Linked DNA regions of Homo sapiens. The protein of the gene in region 5 interacts with the protein of the main gene of each other region in a pairwise test. Each region holds a gene or a part of one and is shown on either strand. Other genes may lie near its edges. The genes, in order: CCBE1, HIPK3, MYL7, EXOSC10 and TOX4.

Region 1 (4,016 bases), on a different chromosome or scaffold from region 5:
CCTCCAATCTTCGAGGAAATAGCGCTAGACAAAAGAAGAGGGTTACAAAGCTTACATTTGTCTATCTATGCACCTTTCTAAGTTTAGCCTACTTAAGTTAAAATGGACATGTTAAAGGTCATGAACGTCCACATAACGTTAAATTTTTTCACAACTTCATCTCCGTAGGATCCTATTTCTGAACAGATCTGTGCCTGTGTTTTTTTCTCTACACCACATCATTCCTTTACCTTCCTATTACATCAAATGATGAATTCCAGTTTCCTAACTTTTCCCTTCCTTTGCCAAAATACCATTATCAGACTTTGTTTCTCTCACTTCAGAATATTTCTTTTAGACTGTTCTCTCCTTCTCCACTACTGTTTTCCACAGTCATTGTTAAAGCCATCACTATTTAGGAGTCTCCATGAGCTTTGTGGAACAAAACAGCTGGTGTTAAAAGGAAGTTCAAAAATTCATAAGTTTAGGCTGGGTTCAAGTGGCTCACACCTGTAATCCCAGTACTTTGGGAGGCCGAGATGGGTGGATCACCTGAGGAGCTCAAGACCAGCCTGGCCAACATGGCAAAACCCCATCTCTACTAAAAATACAAAAAAATTAGCTGGGCGTGGTGGCACATGCTTATAGTCCCAGCTACTCTAGAGGCTGAGGCAGGAGAATCCCTTGAACCCCAGAGTTGGAGGTTGCAGTGAGCTGAGATTGCACCACTGCCCTCCAGCTTGGGCAACAGAGATTCCATTTGAAAAAAAAGAAATTCTTAAGTTTAATCACTGATATATTCTGCATAGGGTACCTGTATAGTGTTATAATATATTTTTAGCCATACATGGAAAAATATAAAGTTATAACTGATTCCGAATACCTTCAATGAAAATGGCTTTTTTTCCCTCGATGGGTATTCCTCCAAATATATGCTATCATTTGATCTTTGAATGTAAAAATTTTTCTACTATACTAATTCAAAACTAACATTTCGGCTAGGTGCGGTGGCTCATGCCTATAATCCCAACACTTTAGGAGGCTGAGGAGTTCAAGACCAGCCTGGACAACGTAGCAAGAATCCATCTCTACAAAAAATTAAATTAGTCAGGCATGGTGGTGGGCTCATGTAGTCCCAGCTACTCAGGAGGATGAAGCAGGAGGATAGCTTCAGCCTGGGAGATTGAGGCTGCAGTGAGATATGATTGCACCACTGTACTGCAGTCTAGGCAACAGAGTGAGACCATGTCTCAAAAAACAAAAACAAAAAACAAACCCTAACATGTTGAAATGTATGGAGAGGTGGCTTTCAGCCTACAAAGCGTGTGATAATTGATATGCAAATCAATGAGGTAAGGTAGCAAACCAAGGTAACACTCAAGGGTTATTCTATTGGCACAGGAAGGCTTGTCATGGAAAGCCATAGAAAGGCAGCAGGAAGTGAGTGCTCAATCAACTCCTTGCAATAAAGTCAGCTTCTTAGAAACTGGCAGATTATGCTCATTTCGAGTATCACTTAGGAATGATGACTTGAAAGAAGTTCCAGCTCAACAAAAACTATGATTCCTGGAGATCAGAAAACCAAGTGACAACTAAAGATGCTTGGCCAAGAAATCCAAACACTGTAATATAAATAAGGTGATACACAGGTAAGTGACCCAAAGATGAAGATGAGTAAGTGACCGTCCCAAGGTCACCTTGAGAATTCAGACATGTGGATGAGGTGTTATAGATGGAAAGCCCCAATCCTGGTGTTTGTATTAAAGTGGATCTACAGGAGTCAAGTTTTCTTTTGTAAGGGGCTAGGCAGTAAATATCTGGGACTTTGGGGGCCAAATTGGGATTCTGTGTGTTCTTTTGCAATGCTTTCAAGACAAAAACTACTCAAACTATTAGTAGTACAAGAACAAGCCATGGGCCCTAGTTTGCCAATCCCTGCTCTCTACCAAACTCCCAGGATTAGACGCTACCTGTTGAGAGCCCCCCTGTATCTCCCACCAGTTCTGTTTACATAGCCTCCTGTGGGACAGCCCACGGGGCTGACATCCGTCCCTGTCATTCCCAGAGGGCCAAGGATGAGAAGCTTCACTCCAGATGAGGCAAATAGAATGTCCCACAGGAGTGGCCAAGAAGGAAAGGTCTAGAACGGATGTGGTCCCAGTTTCTGAAGTCCTCAAGGTCATGGTAAGATGAACTAGTTCTACCACAACCAATAAGGTGGCAACATATTCATCCAAGCTTTCACATTGGCTCTTGGCACACATGGATCATACCTTAAAGCTAGAAAGATGCGACATTTTGCTTAATGAGGATTAAGTGTGTAGGCATCACTACCACCCCATTCTCTACAGGTGTTTCAAGCTGGAAACTAACTGTTCAAGAAGTGTCACATACTTATATGATGACAGATCTATAATGCATTATGTGGAGAGTCAAGCAATGTTGGAGGGGCATGCCTTCTTTAAAACTCTGCTTACAGTCACTGTCGGAAAACATGATGCTGGCCTAGGTGAACTGGGCTTGGGGTATTTGTCCCTAGTGGGGCAACTCTGATGCTGCTATCCACATCACAGGTCACATGAGAAAATAACACCTCCTCTTTGTAATGCTTTCACATTGCAATAATTCTTGGAAGAAACTTGCGGTACATGCTAAGTTCTTGCTAGCGCCTCTGCAGAAAACCTTCTGTTACCACCATCCCTGGGTTTTCCTGACTCTGCTTGAAGCTGTGGGATTTCTGTTGCTGAAAGGACACAGCTGGGCTACCGGCAATTAAGATCTTAACCTCCAAAGTGTGACATTAATCAAATGTATGTCCAAAACAAGTATCTTAAAAAGGTCCCAAAGGAAATCTTTGGGTCAAAATTCCTTTACTGAAAGATAAAGGGAATTAAAATTCCTTGAGGACAGAGGATTTTTGTTGTTGTTGGGGGTTTGTCCAATTTTCAGATATATTCTAAATGTCTAGAACAGTGCCTGGCAGATTGTAAGTACCCAACAAGTATTCGTTGACTAAGTAAATGAAGCTTGTTCATAAGATTAAAATTAGTCAATAGCTAATTAAAACACTATTTAAAATGAGTCAATAGCTTCGCAGAAAAAAAGGACCTCACTTGGCAGAAGAGGAACTGCAGATGTTATAGCTGTTTACTTTTTCATCCCGCAAATAAAAGCAATAATCTAAAACAGAATGTGATCTTTGTTCTCTAGATACTCAACAATGCCTTAAATGCCAGCAGACCCTCTAAACTCACAAAAGGAGCTCCGGTCCTGCTGAGCAGGAGAACAGCAGGGTTTGGGAAAGCTGCTGATTGAAATGCAAGCCTTCTCCTGAGAAGATAGAATATCTAGAATCAAGAAAGAGGCATTTGGCTTTTCCGGGTGCACCCACCCCAGCTTCACTTACAAAGGATGAAGTTAACCATAGGAAGTTGGGCAGCAACCAGAGTAGCAACTGGATCTGATCTCAAAGGACACACCAGTGAAAGAGCAGCCTTTTGTGGTTACTGAGTTAAAATTGTTTCCAATTACTCCGTATTGTTTCTCTGAGAGTGAGTGAGAAGTGATACAGAACCTTCCCTCCCTCGAACACCTGTTCTTGTGGGAAGGCGGGGGACCCCCTTTAAAACCTTGATCCTCTACTCCAAAGCCAGTGTCTGTGGCACAATTAAACACACAGGCAGGAACCCACATGTCCTCTTCAGGTGTTATTTAAGATGGCAAGTTCAAGGAGTTAGCTATAGCTGCCAGAATCTAGCACCTGTTACACATTAGCAATTAAAGTTAAGCGGATCTAACTTGGAACCAATGAAAATAATGGCAGCTTCTCAGAGGTCCAGTTAATCTCTGGTTTTTAGAAGAGTCTTCCTAGCTCAGATTTTAAATAAAGCACATTTGGATAGCAAGAGAAGTTCCTGAAGACCTAACAGATTTCAGTTAAATCTTATTGTTTACTTTTAACATAGTCATTCTGTCATTCAGCAAATATGTATTGAACAACCTCTCTGTCCAGGCATGGAGCTAGCCTCTGAGGATAT
Region 2 (4,016 bases), on a different chromosome or scaffold from region 5:
TGATATTTTTTTCCAACATTAAATCTAATGTTAAGTAATATTCAGGCTCCAGTGAACTGATGAGAACATTATTCAGTTATTTTATATATAATTACACCTTTTTCCTTGTCCAATAGCACTTTTTCATAAAATTTCTAGACCCTTAAATTAATTCTCTGTTCCAACTGCCAAACCTAATTCTGTTCCATTTCAGGAACATCATTTTGGCATTTTTTTTTTCTTCTTTCCCTTCCCATTTGATCCTTAGTAGCAGCTCATAAAATTCCTCTTTATAAATTCCAGATAATTTCATCAAGACATGACAAAAGAGGCACTGCTCTGGATAATTTAAATGAAATATACAAACATATATGTATGTGACTTGGCTATTTCAAATTAAATTCTAACATCAGGATATGTGCCTCTGCTGGTAATTTGGGTCCTTGTACCTAACCAGGTATCTGAAAGGTATCCCCACACCTCTGAAGGCCTAGACAGAGCCCCATATTTCTCATCTCTTCCTGACACTCTTGGGCCCTGACAATCTCTCTCTCCTTGGGATTTCTACAGCATTTATTGTCTGTTTCAACCACTCATTCCATACTTACTTACGAATTTGAAGCATCTCTTTTTATACATATTTTTATTTATATATCTTATACGTATATTTGTTTATATATATTTTACATGTGAATGTATAGTTATGTACATTATCAATTTTCAAACCATATTATAAGCAACTTTTAAGAAGATACATTAAAATTTCCTTATATTTTCCATAGAGCTTTGGCTATAAGAATGCAATATCATATTTCCTAAGGAAAAAGATGTGTAAAATTAAAACTTAAAATTTTTCAAATGTTTGTTGCCACTAAAATAAGACTTTATTTCTTTCTTTCCTTCCCCTCCTTCCTTCCTTCCTTTCTAAGAGATAGGGTCTTACTCTGTTGCCCAGGCTATAGTGCAGTGGTGTGATCATAGCTCACTGCAGCCTCAAATTACAGGGCTCAAATAATCCTCCTGCCTCAGCCTCCTGAGTAGCTAGCACTACAGGCATGCAACACCACATCCTGCTTTTTTTTTTTTTTTTAATTTTTGGTAGAGGCGGGGTCTCACTATGTTGTCCAGGCTGGTCTCGAACTCTTGGCCTCAAGTGATCCTCCTGCCTTGGCCTCCCAAAGTGCTGGGATTACAAGTGTTGGCCACTGTGCCTAGACTGTGGCTTATCTCTCAATGCGTTAGTAAATCATTCTGCTTAGGACAAGCTTACTATCTTAGCAGTGGTACATGTCGCTGGCCAAAGGATGGGTAAGCCAGGTTAATATGGATAAAACCATGCAAATCAGTCACCAATGGGAGAAAAAAATCATAGTGGATGTCCTGTAGACAGTGGGCCAGTGAGTACTTCATTATGCAAAACATTCCTTTTTAATTTTGCTAAAGTATATGTTTTTATTCCAAATTTAAGTTACAATAGTAGTCTGTGGGGCTGAAATTAAGAATGTGGCTTTTTTATCCTTTCAAAAATAGATTATTTGGCTGGATGTGGTGGCTCACGCCTGTAATCCTAGCATTTTGGGAGGCTGAGGCAGGCAGATCACCTGAGGTAAGGAGTTCAAGACCAGCATGTCCTGGTGAAACCCCATCTCTACTAAAAATACAAAAAATTAGCCAGGTGTGGTGGCAGGTTCCTGTAGTCCCAGCTACATGGGAGGCTGAGGCAGGAGACTCACTTGAACCTGGGGAGGCGGAGGCTGCGGTGAGCCAAGATCACACCATTGCACTCCAGCCTAGGTGACAGAGCCACACTTCATCTCCTCCCACCCGCCCCTCAGCAAAAAAAGATTATTTAGTTAGGTATGGTGGCTCATGCCTGTAATCCCAGCACTTTGGGAGGCCAAGGTGGGAGCACTGGTTGAGCCCAGGAGTTCAAGACCAGCCTGTGCAACAGGGCAAGATCCCATCTCTACAAAAAAAACTTAAAAATTAGCCGAGCATCGCTGTGCGCACCTGTGGTCCCAGCTACTCAAGAGGCTAAGGCAAGAGGATTGCTTGAGCCTGGGAGGCAGAGGTTGCTGTGAGCCGAGATCATGCCACTGCATTCCAGCCTGGGCAACAAAGCAAGACCCTGTCTCAAAAACAAACAAACAAACAAACAAACCTGTGTTTATAAAAACTGATCTAGTTCAAAAATTGTGTTCAAGATAGAAGTCACTGTGGTAAACTGGCAGGTACTTATTAAACAACAGAAAGAAATCGTAGGCTTTTTAGTAGACTTACTATTTATTACACACTACTATTGAGATTCTTTTACCTATTCGGTCTCTTGCAGGGGGATGGGCTGGACTGCCCTGAGGAGCTGGTACTCAGAGTACTATCAGGACTACTTAATGAACACATCCGATCAATATTCAAAGTGCTCTGGCAAGCTTCACAATCTAGACTACCTTTACATCTAGTGGAAGAGAAAAGGGAAAAACATGAGTCAAATACAAGAAGATACTCTCCAAATAGCCAAAATTTATATTCTTTAATTAAGGATATGAAACTGTTAAGAATGACCTACATGGACAAAAAGTTAAAGCTTACAGATACAAGGAAAATGCTATAATAATCGTGCTAAATGTTATTTAGAAAGTTCCCTGTCTAGAACTGGGTTATCTAATTTAAAGGTTTTACTCCAGAGTACATTGACAAACAAGAAATAAGTCACAGAAAGTTGTTTTTCGGCACACCAAAGGATGCCATCTATATCCTTTGAGGATGCAGCGTTTGGCACTTACTCTCTGAGTGAATGTCTCTGGGAAGTCTCTTCCTCATCAGTGTCACTGCTGATAGTGATGACACTCACTGCAGGACTCGGGGAGTCGGCAATAATGATGGTTTGCCGCTGTTTGTCTGAAACTGATGAATCAGAGTCCTGTCTGATAGATGTTTCACAGCAATTTCTTGCCTCTCCTTCTGAGTTCTGATTGTCCTGTGTTTCTATACAACTTACTTCCTCGACATCTTTCCCATTAATTATCTTTGGAGAAATAAATGCTGAATGTGGGATATTGGTATTCTGTAATGAATTACTCCTGCAACCAAAGGAATAATTTATAATTTCTATAATCAAAATATGTATAATCAATTGTCTAAGGTATCTTGTTAAACCAGAAAATGAGAACCTTCACTTGTTCGAGTTCATGAATATAACACACTAACAGATCTTGAGTTTTTGTGAAATATAAAATAGCTCTAGAAATATCCATGTAGACTGCATTTACATACATTTAAATAGTTGCTTTTTGGTAAATGTGCTATCTGAATGTCCACAATTGCTACATTACAGGTAGATAATAAATCAAAAGGGCAATAAAGACAATCTTACCAACTGAAAGCATTTATTTCCTCTCTTCCTGGCTCCCATTCCATTAGTTTTACCAAAATACCTCTGAGAAATTGAGAAGGGAGCTGGCTTAGTGTTTGTAACAAAGCTATAAAAGAGGTCATTTTGAATACAACAGAGTGACCCTTTAGAGTACATGCAAAATTCATTTAAAAGATTCTCAAAATGCAGAGGAAAGCTAAAGCACCAATACCAACCTGTTCTGGCACTGTTTATTTTTCTTGGTAGTGGCAGGCTGAGGCCAGACAACATGTGCAATCCCCACACTAACTGGCTGAGGGGCAGATAAAGTTATCTGATTGGTCAGAAGAGGCTGCGGCATCACTGAGTTATAATGATTGCTGCATGAAATCATCTTCCTAGGGAGAAGTTCAGAACAATGTTTTTAATCAAGATCTTTCTTTAATCAAGATCTAGTCTGCAAACTATTCACAAAGTACTTTTGTTTTCAGCTTACCCCCAGTCTCCAAGCCTGTGTGAACCAGCCACACTCTCAGAAGTTAGTGTAGTAGTAGCAGGAGCCAGGGGTGTCACCTGTTGCCAGGCAGGCACCAGCATCTGCTGTGTTCTACCAGACCACGTCTGCTTGCAGCAAAGCAAAACAATAGAAAATAACAAGTTATAAGTAATTGAACTTTACCATATC
Region 3 (4,447 bases), on a different chromosome or scaffold from region 5:
TCTCAGATGAAGGGTGACGGGAGCACTAACTATTCTCTCCTGAGAAGTCGTCTCCCTACACTCCAGCTGTCTGACCCTCTTACCCCTCACGGCGCATGAGGGGCTCAGGAGGCATGATGCCAGGTTCTGGGCATTTCCTCTAGAAATTTGCATGTTACCTGGCCCCTGCTTTGGTGTCCATGTTCCTCATGTCTTAGTGCCTTGCCTGTATTTGCAATGAGAAGCTGGTTGTGTTTCAAATGGGTACCTCTCTGCCTTTCACAAAGGGCCCATGCAGGGAGGCACCCAAGCCAGTGTATTGAGATGGGGTGCGAGCAGTGGGCCAGGGGAGGCTGTGTGGTTGGGTGTGGGGGTCCCAGGGCTGCTGCCCACCCGCTGGGCTGTTGGGCAGAGTTTGCTGAGTGCCCAGCAAGCAGCCTCTTCTCTGCACAGCCCCAAGTAGCTGGGCAGTGCCCACTTTGTGGCTCATTCCTGGGCTTGGTGGAGGTGGTGTAAATCCCACCATCTCCTCTTCTAGAGGGCTGGCCTTGGTAAGATGCTCACACTTTCTGGGCCTCAGTGTCCTCATCTGTAAACTAGGCATGATCATAGTTCACACTTCACTTGGCATCATGGGAGTGAATCAAGGTGAGCTGGCGAGGGGCCAGCTCCCAGGAGGTAGATGGTGGCCATGATCATGGTGATGTGCGCACTGAGACCCTGGGATCCCCCTTGGCTGGTCCCCAACCCATCTGTCACAGACAAGACACCACAGCAATTCCAATTTTGCAACAGAGTTTATTGAGGTGCCCCCCCGTGGGCCTGGCCCTGCCCCTCATTCCTCTTTCTCGTCTCCATGGGTGATGATGTAGCACAGTGACTTGTAGTCGATGTTCCCCGCCAGGTCCATGGGTGTCAGGGCGAACATCTGCTCCACCTGCAGGGGACACTGGTGAGTGGCAGTCCCCTGGCTCCTGGCCCAGCCCGGCAGAGACCTCACCTGAGTCCTGTGGCCTTTCTGTCTGCCCCCTGCATCTGTGCTTTTTGCCTTAGCTTTTCAACCCTAGACCCCAGACTCTGGGTTAATGTTTTTCTCTTGGCTGACTCTGGGCAGAGTGAGGAGTCAGTGCAAATGTGGGCCAAGAGGCAAAGGACGCCCCTCCAGCCACAGGCACAGGCCCACCCCGAGTGTACGAAACCTCTCCCTATCCACTTCCCCCCAGGTCTGTGCACAGTCTCCCTGCCTGGCGCACCCTGCCCTCTTTTCTGACTCCACATCTTTACCCTCTAGGTCTCAACAGAGATGGCACCTCCTCCAGAAGGGCCCTCGGCTCACCCTTCCAGCAACTGCCTCACTGGTACTGGGCTCTGGGTCATGGGTGAAGGCCCAGAGAAGGTGCTGGGGATGAGTATTGAAGGGGCTGGGCAGCCTCACCTCAGCTGGAGAGAACTTGTCTGCCTGGGTCAGGAGAAGCTGCTTGAACCTGGGGGGTGAGGAGGGTCTGAGCAGGAGACTGCGGGGGAGTGACTGCACAGGGAAGGTGGGTACGGAGGCTCCCATGGCGCAGGGAAGGGTTGGCTGCACCCCAAAGAGCAGTGTAAGGCCCCGAAGCACAGGCAGCCCCCCTCACTAGGGGCCTCACCCCGCTCTCTGCTTCCACCACGGTGCTCCTCATCTGGCTGGGCCCATACTTACTCATCCTTGTTCACCACCCCTTTGCCGCTGGGGTCAAACATGCGGAAGGCACTCAGGATGGCTTCCTCGGGGTCTGTCCCTGGAAGGCCGAGGCAGCCAGGTGAGCATCCATGTCTCCAGCATCCCAGGTCCCCCGCAGGAGGAACTGGGCTGCATGAGGAGCCTCCCACATCCCAGAAGAGGTGGGGGTATTCCCTAACATAAAATGTTTCTCGGGGATCAGTGGGGCTGGGAATGGTCATCCTCCTGAGGCGGGCAGCTTGGCTGGGAGACTGGAATTTGGGGGTGGGGGCTGAAGGCACATTTCCTGGCTCCAAGTCAGCACTGGGGTGACCAGTGCACATGGGATTCTGGGGCAGAGGATGTGCTTGGAATGGGTCATGGCCAGGAAGAGTCCAGGTGGGTCCAGGTGGGGTTCAGTTAGGGTTCAGGTGGGGTTCATGTAAGGTTCAGGTGGGGTTCAGGCAGGGTTCAGGTGGGGTTCAGGCAGGGTGCAGGCTCCCTGCCTGGCCAAGGGTGCCCAGCTCTGTCCCAGGCTCACCATTGAGCTTCTCCCCAAAGAGCGTGAGGAAGACGGTGAAGTTGATGGGGCCCTTGCCCTCTTGCAGCATGGCGTCCAGCTCCTCCTCTGGGACACTCACCTTCCCTGGTGGGGGTGGGGCATGAGGTGCACACAGGGACCCTGGGTGTCCCCCAGAAGGCCCAGGCCGCCCTCCCTCCATCCTGGCCACAGGGGCTGGAGGGGCAGAGGCAGCTGTGGGTCGGGAAGGTGAAGTGGAAGCAAGGCGTGACAAGGGGGGAAGGGCAGTGTGAGGAGACGGGGAGGAGGGGAAGCAGGGGAGCAGAGTCCTGTCCCCCCAGCCACTCCCACCCGCCCAGCAGCTCAGAGTAGGGACCCCAGTGCGCAGGGTGGGAGGTGGGTGCACGCACCCAGCTGGGAGTAGGTCTCCCTCAGGTCTGCCTTGCAGATGATGCCATCACGATTCTGGTCGATACAGCTGAAGGCCTGTGGGATGGGGGCCTTCAGGTGGGAGCAGCCCCCAGCTCTAGGGAAGGTGGGAGGTGGGGGAGAGACCTGGGTGGTGTGAGAGGCAAGGTCAGGGTAGAAGGGGGGTATGTATGTGGGGTGGGGTGGGGGGGCCAGGATGGGATCTGAGGCTACTGGGAGTGGGCACTCACTTCTTTGAACTCCTGTATCTGGGCTTGTTCAAACATGGAAAAGACGTTGGAAGAACCACGTTGGGCCTGCTTGGTGGCTGCCACCTTGCCCCGGGTCCCCGCCTTCCTGCTGGCCTGCAACACTGTGAGTAGGGAGGGGTCCTCTCCCCAACTCCTCAGAGTCTCCCCACCCCACCCATCATGCACAGTCCCAGAGCATTCCCAGGAGAGCCAGGGCCAGGATCCTCTTCCTCTCCCTGGGGACCACCCTCAACCCAACACAAGCACAGAAAACTCTGCTCCCCCAGCCCAAAGGCCAGCACCTGGGAGACCGCTAGCCTTTCTTCCCCAGCAGGCACTCACCATTCTCTCTGCAGAGGTGTGGCTGCTGTCGTGGTGGCAGGGCCCAGCCTCCTTTATGTCTCAGCCTTATCACCTGAAGGTCCAAATAAGGAGAGGAACAGAGGATAGGCCCAAACTTGGCAGCCCCCGCCTGGGCTGGGGGAGGCCTAACAGATTCCAGCCACATTCCTGATGACCTTCATGTCCTCAACGTGTAACATCCTGCTGTCTATCCATCCTGGCAGGGCCAGACACAATGTCTGCCTGGAGCAGAGCAGGCTCAAAGCTCTCACCACCCTAGGTCCTGATGAAGGGATCCAGTTACTCCTGTATCTGACCACCCCTCCTTGCCAGTCCAGCCAGAACCCTGGCCAGTGCAAGAAGACAGCTGGTGAGGGCCAGTCCAGGGCCCCCGCCAGGCATGGGAGGGCAGTGTGTAGTTCTGAGGATGGTCTGTGGCCTGAGACCCCCGGGGCTTCCCAGAGGTTTTGGTGACCCTAGGCTCTGACCTTTTGCCCCTCTGACCAAGGGGCAGAAGGCATCCCTGAGCTAGCTGTGACCCCAAGAAGAACACTTTGCTTGGCTTTGGGGCAATTCCAGAGGGTTAAGGAGCTCCATCAGCTGCCCTCCCATGCAGTCTACCTTGCTCCCAGTCTGCCCTGCTGTTTGGAGCCTTGCCTTCCTCAAGCCTCATCTCAACCACACTACTTCAGAATGCTCTCCCTAACATCCTCAGCAGGGAGCTTCTGGGGCACATTTCCCATTTGCCTGGTGGCTGATGTGTTTGTCATTCCTGGCTTCTGTGCCCCTCCTGAGCACCCCACCTGGTTGACATCTGTATCCCCAGAAGGCCTGGTGCACAGTGGGCCGATGGGCAGGCCTGCGTGATGCTGTTCCAGAGAAGCAGTCTCGCCAGCTTCTGGGGCCGAGGGCACAGCAGAGGGGCTGGGGAAACAGGGGACATCCTGGAGGCAGCAGGAGTGGGCCACCCCAGGCTGGGCTCACTGGCTGCTGCCCCTCCACTGGAGCCAGACCTATGTCTGTCAGTAGCTGGCTGGTAGAGTGCAGGAGCTCTTATCTGTCAGACCCAATACCCTTTTTATATAACAAGAGTTTTCTTTTAAATTTCTTAAATTCCCTTTTTTTTTTTTGAGACAGAGTCTCACTCTCGCACAGGCTGGAGTGCAGTGGCGCGATCTCAGCTCACTGCCACCTCTGCCTCCCGGGTTCAAGCCATTCTTGTTCCTCAGCCTCCCAAGCAGCTGGGATTAT
Region 4 (4,016 bases), on a different chromosome or scaffold from region 5:
GCCCAATCTAGATTTATGTAATTAAGTTAAAAACCAAAGTGAAGCCTGGGCGACATGGTGAAACCCCACCTCTACAAAACATACAAAAATTGGCTGGGCATGGTGGCATACACCTGTAGTCCCAGCTACTCGAGAGAAGGCTGGGGCAGAGGGATTGCTTGAGCCCAGGAGGCAGAGGTTGCAGTGAGCCAGGATGGTGCCACTGCACTCCCACCTGGGTGACAGGATGAGATCCTGTCACAAAAAAAAAAAAAAAAAAAAAAAAAAAAAATGCCGGGTGTGGTGGCTCATGCCTGTAATCCCAGCACTTTGGGAGGCTTAGGTGGGTGGATCGCCTGAGGTCAGGCATTCGAGACCAGCCTGGCCAACATAGTGGCCCCATCTCTATTAAAAATATAAAATATTAGCTAAGTATGGTGGCGGGCGCCTGCAATCCCAGCTACTAGGGAAGCTGAGGCAGGAGAATCGCTTGAACCTGGGAGGTGGAGGTTGCAGTGAGCCGAGATGATGCCACTGCACTCCAGCCTGTGCAACAAGAGCGAAACTCCATCTCAAAAAACCAAACCAAACAAACAAAAAAAGTGAAATAGCTGGGCACAGTGACTCATGCCTGTAATCCCAGCTACTCAGGAGGCTGAGGCAGGAGGATCGTTTGAGCCTCAGAAGTCAAGGCTGCAGTGAGCCATGATTGTGCCACTGCATTCCAGCCTTGGTGGCAGAACAAGATTGTCTCAAAAAAAAAAAAAATCATTTCTCTTCTTCACTGAAAGCACACATATGTGGTGCTGGGGTCAGGCAGGAAGCTATGGGCAGCGCACATTCTACAGTTCATCGGACAGTACACCCATGCCACCCCTGCTGGGCATCCAGGTGAACCGTTTTTCCTCCACCACCACTGCAGCTTGTCTGGAAAGCCCTGCTTGTATGTTCTCTTAGCGCAGGCCCTCCTCCCACTAGGTGCTGTTCAACAACAGGACGTCAGCCTTTCCTGGAAGATTTCTTCACACAGAGCTCAAGAGAATCCCCCATCCACGTCCCCAGACCACCTCCTCCAGAGTGGTCAGTGCCACCTTGCTCATTGGTCTCTATGCCTCTCCCAGCACTGCTGGGTTTTGCTCTCAGCATTAGTCTCCGAGTGTATGCAATGCTCCAGGCAGACAGCCTGCTGAATAAATCCAGTAAATCCCAGGGGGTCCTCATCACCTCAGTGAAGTTTCTGTGCTACTCACATTAAATAACGTGATGACAGCTGTGGCAATCAGGCATGTGGTACCCAGCAAGTTATCTTCTTTTTCATCAGGGAAGAGGCTCGCCTGCTTCTGAACTGGCACAGATCCTAGAGGAGCAGAAGATAGTAAGGTCAAAGCCTACAGAATTTTGTTTATTTTTTCTTTTTGAGATGGAGTTTTAGTGTAGTCCCCTAGGCTGGAGTACAATGGCACAATCTCGGCTCACTGCAACCTCCGCCTCCTCGGTTCAAGTGATTCTCCTGCCTCTGCCTCCTAAGTAGCTAAGATTACAGGTGCCCACCACCATGCCAGCTAATTTTTGTATTTTTAGTAGAGATGGGGTTTCACCATGTTGGCCAGGCTGGTCTCAAACTCCTGACCTCAGGTGATCTACCCGCCTCAGCCTTCCAATATGCTGGCATTACAGGCATAAGCCACCACGCCCGGCCAAGCCTACAGAATTTTAGACAAGGTAGCTGTGTCCCAACCTCTTCGGGACAGTCAGGAGGGCTCTCGACTTTACCACTGGTTGGGATGATTGGATAGCCATCCGGAGGGGCATGGGAGCAGTCGTGAGGTCCAAAGAGAACATTCTCCAATCTCTGCATTAAAAGACACCAGCAGGCTGGCATGTAAAACGTGCAAGCCGGCAGTAGCTTTCTGCCAGCTGTCAGCACAGGCCTCTGTCAGAGGTGTACTTGCACTGGCTGTGACTTGACGTTTTCCCTCCTGGGGGAGAAAACAGATCCGACACTCTACCTCAGCACTGGGCAGCGGTCCGCTCTTCTTCACTCCGGCTGCAACTTCAGACTAAGGAAAAAAACGAAGGGAATTGAGGAAAGTTGCCCAAGCACCTCAAGTCCAACCCCCAGTCTCCAGCGCTGACTGTATTCCTTCACCAGCCTGTTTCTCAAAAGCCCAGAGATTTTCTTTCCTCTCTTCACTCCTTACAGTGCCTGGCATGATAATTATTTGGTGCTCAATAATTATTTGTAGAATGAAAGAATAAAGCTCTTTAACATGACTAAGCACAATAGGAAGGATTCCAAAGAGCTTGAAAAAGACTCTTCTCTAGTAATCAAGGTCTCTCTTTACTTGGACAAAGTACAGAGCTTACAAAGACATTTTTAACACAAAAATTGCAAATGTGGGGCTGGCAGGTGGCTCACAACTGTAATTCCAGTACTTTGGGAGGCTGAGGTGGGAGGACTGCTTGAGCCCACGGGTTCAAGACCAGTCTGGGAAACACAGCAAGACCCATCTCTACAAAAAATTAAAAAAAACATAGCTGGGTATGGTGGTGTATGCCTGTGGTCCCAGCTGCTCAGGAGGCTAAGGTGGGAGCCTAGCAGATGCGAGGCTACAGTGAGCCATGATTGCACCACTGCACTCCAGCCTGGGTGTCAGAGCAAGACCCTGTTTCTTTTTTTTTTTGAGACGGAGTCTCGCTCTGTCGCCCAGACTGGAGTGCAGTGGCGGGATCTCGGCTCACTGCAAGCTCCGCCTCCCGGGTTCACGCCATTCTCCTGCCTCAGCCTCCCAAGTAGCTGGGACTACAGGCGCCCGCCACTACGCCTGGCTAATTTTTTGTATTTTTAGTAGAGACGGGGTTTCACCGTTTTAGCCGGGATGGTCTCGATCTCCTGACCTCGTGATCCGCCCGCCTCGGCCTCCCAAAGTGCTGGGATTACAGGCGTGAGCCACCGCGCCCGGCTGACCCTGTTTCAAAACAACAACAACAACAAAAAAAACAAAAGAAAACTGGCTGCCATTGTCAGCATTTGCTACGAAGTCTCATCAATCTTTTCTTCTGATGCTTCCTACACCTGTTCTTTCCTTCTCAGTGTGTGATTCCTCACTCATTCAGGGAGCTATCACTTCACATCTGGGCCATCGCCAGGCTCCCAAAACTAGCTCCCTCTGCTGAGGTCACCGCTCCATCTCACTCCACCACATTAACTGCCTTAGAACAGTGAATTGGCCCAGTTACCAGACAGTACTTGCTGCTGAATCATCAAAGCTAAGGTCATAAATAAAGAGTCTTAGCTCTCAACTATCATAAAAAAAAGCAGCTAAATTCATCAAGACACACACACTGGATTTCCTAAGCCCTATTATTTCCCTAGGGTTGTTTAGAATGCAGACCAGCTCATGAATCTAGGAAGCCACAAGGAATAAGACACTAGCAGAAAAAACAGGCCTGCTAAAGTTGGGCATGATGGCTCACGCCTGTAATCCCAGCACTTTGGGAGGCCCAGGTGGTGGATCACCTGAGGTCAGGAGTTCGAGACCAGCCTGGCCAACATGGTGAAACCCCGCCTCTACTAAAAATACAAAATTAGCCAGGCGTGGTGGTGCATGCCTGTAATCCCAGCGACTCAGGAGGTTGAGTCAGGAGAACTGCTTGAATCCAGGAGGCGGAGGTTGCAGTGAGCCGAGATCATGCCACTGCACTCCAGCCTGGAGACAGAGCGAGACTCCGTCTAAAAAAAACAAAAAACAAACAAACAAAAAAAAAACAGGCTTGCTAAGTTGGGACCCTTCAGTAGAAAATCTTTTTTTTTTTTTTTGAGACGGAGTCTCGCTCTGCCTCCCAGGCTAGAGTGCAGTGGCGCGATCTCGGCTCACTGCAACCTCCGCCTCCCGGATTCAAGCAATTCTCCTGCCTCAGCCTCCGGAGTAGCTGGGATTACAGGCGTGCACCACACGCCTGGCTAATTTTTTGTATTTTTAGTAGAGACGGGGTTTCACCATGTTGGCCAGGCTGGTCTCGAACTCCTGACCTGA
Region 5 (4,016 bases):
GGATTTCAAATTCCTCATCACCCAAGCTTGGTGTATGGAATGTCTGTAGGGGAAAAAAGGGGGAAAAGAATTAGTGAAAAGAGGAGAAATGGCATACTACTAAGTGAAGAACATAATGGGGTACTAGAGATTCTCAGGATGCATTTTTTCTGCTTAGGATCCTATTTTATAATCAATTTCTTAGAACCTATTATTTTTACCAATCTCTCTTCTGATACCCTTGGTCATTTGGTACATTCAAGGCTGCTAACATCAGTCACAATTTTCAATTCTTTTATCTCTTTTCTACCATTACCGTCTCTTTTGTCTTAAATTATGCCTATGGTTCTAATGAAAAATTCTTTCAGTACCATTACTTAGGACATAGCCTTTATAACCTGTTTACTATGATTCTTGAAATCTCTCTCTAAAGATTCTAATAGAGCAGTTATTTCACAATTATTACATCTAAACTGTTAGGTCACAGAAATTCGCTGTCAGCCAGCCAATTATACTTTGTTGTTTTAGGTTCCTTTCAAACAGATGCTAAAATGTACTGTCATGGGAACTTTACCCCCTCTAAAATATTTGCAGAGTTTCCTACTTCTTCTCCACTTTAGAAATTATAATGTTAACAACAAATAAAGATTCCCATTAGTATAGGATTTTCAGAAAACCTCAACAATGCCAAAAATGCTAGTCTTGCTCTGACCAAGCTTCTCTCTAAGAGAGGAAAAGGATTACTCCAGTTGGCTAAAGACCCAATCTCTTCCTCTGAGTCCAACTAGGTCAATAATAACACATTCTTTCTTTTCTGAATGAGGCCACCACTCATGCAGCTAACAGACAATGTCTGATTAAGATGTGAACTGCTATGGTTCTGTTTTGACACTAAAATCTAAATGGTGGCATTTACAGCAATAGACATTTATAAATAATAGCAAGAGACTGCTGTCAGAGAGACCTGGGTACAAGACCTTGAACAAGTTTTCTTCATCTGTAAAATGGGAATTATAATGGTAATCCCCTTATATGGTTATTATGAGGATAAGTGAGATTTCATGCATAAAATCTTAGCACATTGCCTGATACATATAATGGCTTAATCACCATCATTAACCATTGTTATGAATGATAATATCCTAATAATGATTACCCCCACCCCAACCAATTATAACAGATAATTGGAATTTTAGAAACTTTAAATTCTATCAATCTAACACATAGCATAGTAAATATAAACTGATTCAGATCAAATTCAATAGGTACCAACATTTTTTTTTTTCATAATTGAACAATGCATTCTTTAAATAGAGTTCCTAAAGGTTCCTTTTCTTTTTTTTTGAGATGGGGTCTTGCCCTGTCACCCAAGCTGATCTGGAACTCCTGGGCTCAAGCAAGCCTCCAGCCCCAGCCTCCCGAGTAGCTGGGACTACAGGTATGTGCCACCACACCCAGCTAATTTTTAAAATTTTTTGTGGAGACGAGCTCTCCCTGTGTTGCCCAGGCTAGTCTCGAACTCCTGGACTCAAGTAATCCTACTGCCTCGGCCTCCAAAGTGTTGGGCTTACAGACCTCAAGGTTCCTCTAGATCCTGAAATGTTCTTCTATTATGACCATTTCTGTCTTTTTTTTTTTTTCTTTTTTTTGAGACAGAGTCTCGCTCCGTGGCCCAGGCTGGAGTGCAGTGGCGCGATCTTGGCTCACTACAACCTCCACCTCCCGGGTTCAAGCAGTTCTCCTGCCTCAGCCTCCAGAGTAGCTAGGACTACAGGTGTGTGCCACCACGCCCAGCTAATTTTTGTGTTTTTTAATAGAGACGGGGTTTCACCATGTTGGCCTCGATCTCTTGACCTCGTGATCCACCCGCCTCAGCCTCCCAAAGTGCTGGGATTACAGGCATGGGCCACCGCACCTGGCAGTTTTTTTTTTTTTTGAGATAGAGTCTCCTTTGTCACCCATGATAAAATGCAGTGGCGTGATATTGCTCACTGCAACCTCCGCCTCCTGGGTTCAAGTGATTCTCCCACCTCAGGTTCCCAAGTAACTACAGGTGCACACCACCATGCCAGGCTAATTTTTATTATTATTTTATTTTTGAGACAGAGTTTCACTCTTGTTGCCCAGGCTGGAGTGCAATGGCGTGATCTCAGCTCACCGCAACCTCCGCCTCCCAGGTTCAAGTGATTCTCCTGCCTCAGCCTCCCTAGTAGCTGGGATTACAGACATGTGCCACCATGCCCGGCTAATTTTGTATTTTTAGTAGAGACGGGGTTTCTCCATGTTGGTCAGGCTGGTCTTGAACTCCCGACCTCAGGTGATCCGCCCTCCTTGGCCTCCCAAAGTGCTGAGATCACAGGCGTGAGCCACCACGCCTGGCCATGACGCCAGGCTAATTTTTGCATTTTTTGTAGAGATTGGGTCTGGCCATATTGCCCAGACTGGTCTTGAACCCCTGGGCTCAAGCCATCACCCTGCCTTGACCTCCCAAACTGTTGGGATTACAGGCATGAGCCACAGCGCCCAGCCTCTAATTCTGGTTTAATGAAGACATTAGGCTGGGAGCAGTGGCTCACGCCTGTAATCCCAGCACTTCGGGAGGCCCAGGTGGGCGGATCACACGAGGCCAGGAGTTCGAGACCAGCCTGGCCAACACAGTGAAACCCGTCTCTACCAAAAGAACAAAAAATTAGTCAGGCATGGTGGCACACACCTATAATCCTAGCTACTCGAGAGGCTGAGGCACGAGGATCACTTGAACTCAGGAGTCAGAGGTCACAGTGAGTCAAGACTGCACCACTGCAATCCTGCCTGGGCGACAGACCAAGACCATGTCTAAAAAAAAAGAAAAAGAAAGAAAATAAAGGCCGGGTGCCGTGGCTCATGCCTATAATCTCAGCACTTTGGGAGGCCGAGGTGGGTGGACCACCTGAGGTCAAGAGTTCGAGACCAGCCTGGCCAACATGGCGAAAATCCATCTCTACTAAAAATACAAAAATTAGCCAGGTGTGGTGGCAGGTGCCTGTAATGCCATCTACATCAGGAGGCTGAGGCAGGAGAATCACTTGAATCCAGGAGGCAGAGGCTGCAGTGAGCCGAGATTGTGCCACTGCACTCCAGCCCGGGTGACAGAGCAAGACTCTGTCTCAAAAAAAAAAAAAAAAAAAAAAAAAAAAAAAAAAAAAGACATTGCTAGAAAGAAAATTTCCAGCTAGCAGAAACTAGGGAGAAAAAAGTGTGCCTGTGAAATGCCCAATCTCTGAATCACATTTGTAAAAGTTTCCTAAAAGACAAAAAGATATATGTACAGTTTCCCTTCTCCTTACTATTTTACTTGGTATGGTAAAAAATCTGGTCGTTGTCTGAGATATAAGTAGCACACGGAGCATAAGAACACACAGTTCTCAGCTGGTAGTGGTGGCTCACACCTGTAATCCCAGTACTTTGGGAAGCCAAGGTGGGTGGATCACTTGAAAAGTCGGGAGTTCGGGACCAGCCTGGCCAACATGGAAAACCCCATCTCTACTAAAAATACAAAAATTAGCTGGGTGTGGTGGTGTGCGTCTGTAATCCCAGCTACCCAGGTGGCTGAGGCACGAGAATCGCTTGAACCCAGGAGTTGAAGGCTGCAGTGAGCCAAGATCACATCACTGCACTCCAGCCTGGATGACAGAGCAAGACTCTGTCTCACACGCGCACACACACACACACAAATAACAAAAAATACCACGCAGTTCTTGATGGGAAAAACTGAAACTTTCCCCAAGAACTGAACTTTTCTCAGTAGTACACAAATCATGTATTTATGTATGTTGTTTTGTTGTTGTTTTTTTTAATTCTGAGACAGGGTCTTACCCTGTCGCCCAGGCTGAGTGCATGGCTCCATCACCACTCACTGCAGCCTTGAACTCTTGGGCTCAAGTGATCTTCCCACCTTGGCCTCCCAAAGTTCTAGGATTACAAGTGTGAGCCACTGTGTCTGGCCCATAATTTTTGTTATTGTGTGGAAGTTCTTAACTTCCAGTCCATGACTCTTT

Evidence for each region.
Region 1: the proteins of TOX4 (region 5) and CCBE1 interact in a two-hybrid assay, tested with the Homo sapiens proteins (one large-scale study listed by BioGRID and IntAct).
Region 2: the proteins of TOX4 (region 5) and HIPK3 interact in a two-hybrid assay, tested with the Homo sapiens proteins (one large-scale study listed by BioGRID and IntAct).
Region 3: the proteins of TOX4 (region 5) and MYL7 interact in binary tests that used the Homo sapiens proteins (3 or more experiments, as listed by UniProt).
Region 4: the proteins of TOX4 (region 5) and EXOSC10 interact in a two-hybrid assay, tested with the Homo sapiens proteins (one large-scale study listed by BioGRID).

Annotation. Positions count from the first base shown.
Region 1 is NC_000018.10:59,687,215-59,691,230, forward strand, and holds part of CCBE1 (collagen and calcium-binding EGF domain-containing protein 1 precursor), read right to left. Parts: intron 1-4,016. UniProt on the Homo sapiens protein: Required for lymphangioblast budding and angiogenic sprouting from venous endothelium during embryogenesis.
Region 2 is NC_000011.10:33,347,565-33,351,580, reverse strand, and holds part of HIPK3 (homeodomain-interacting protein kinase 3), read right to left. Parts: intron 3,953-4,016; coding exon 3,828-3,952; intron 3,730-3,827; coding exon 3,568-3,729; intron 3,416-3,567; coding exon 3,353-3,415; intron 3,060-3,352; coding exon 2,763-3,059; intron 2,435-2,762; coding exon 2,294-2,434; intron 1-2,293. UniProt on the Homo sapiens protein: Serine/threonine-protein kinase involved in transcription regulation, apoptosis and steroidogenic gene expression. Phosphorylates JUN and RUNX2. Seems to negatively regulate apoptosis by promoting FADD phosphorylation.
Region 3 is NC_000007.14:44,138,107-44,142,553, forward strand, and holds MYL7 (myosin regulatory light chain 2, atrial isoform), read right to left. Parts: upstream 3,227-4,447; 5' UTR 3,200-3,226; coding exon 3,197-3,199; intron 2,969-3,196; coding exon 2,855-2,968; intron 2,751-2,854; coding exon of another isoform or gene 2,682-2,750; coding exon 2,606-2,681; intron 2,322-2,605; coding exon 2,217-2,321; intron 1,755-2,216; coding exon 1,676-1,754; intron 1,464-1,675; coding exon 1,415-1,463; coding exon of another isoform or gene 1,316-1,414; intron 917-1,315; coding exon 815-916; 3' UTR 758-814; downstream 1-757.
Region 4 is NC_000001.11:11,075,613-11,079,628, forward strand, and holds part of EXOSC10 (exosome complex component 10), read right to left. Parts: intron 2,040-4,016; coding exon 1,989-2,039; intron 1,832-1,988; coding exon 1,753-1,831; intron 1,337-1,752; coding exon 1,230-1,336; intron 1-1,229. UniProt on the Homo sapiens protein: Catalytic component of the RNA exosome complex which has 3'->5' exoribonuclease activity and participates in a multitude of cellular RNA processing and degradation events.
Region 5 is NC_000014.9:21,483,478-21,487,493, reverse strand, and holds part of TOX4 (TOX high mobility group box family member 4), read right to left. Parts: intron 44-4,016; coding exon 1-43. UniProt on the Homo sapiens protein: Transcription factor that modulates cell fate reprogramming from the somatic state to the pluripotent and neuronal fate. In liver, controls the expression of hormone-regulated gluconeogenic genes such as G6PC1 and PCK1.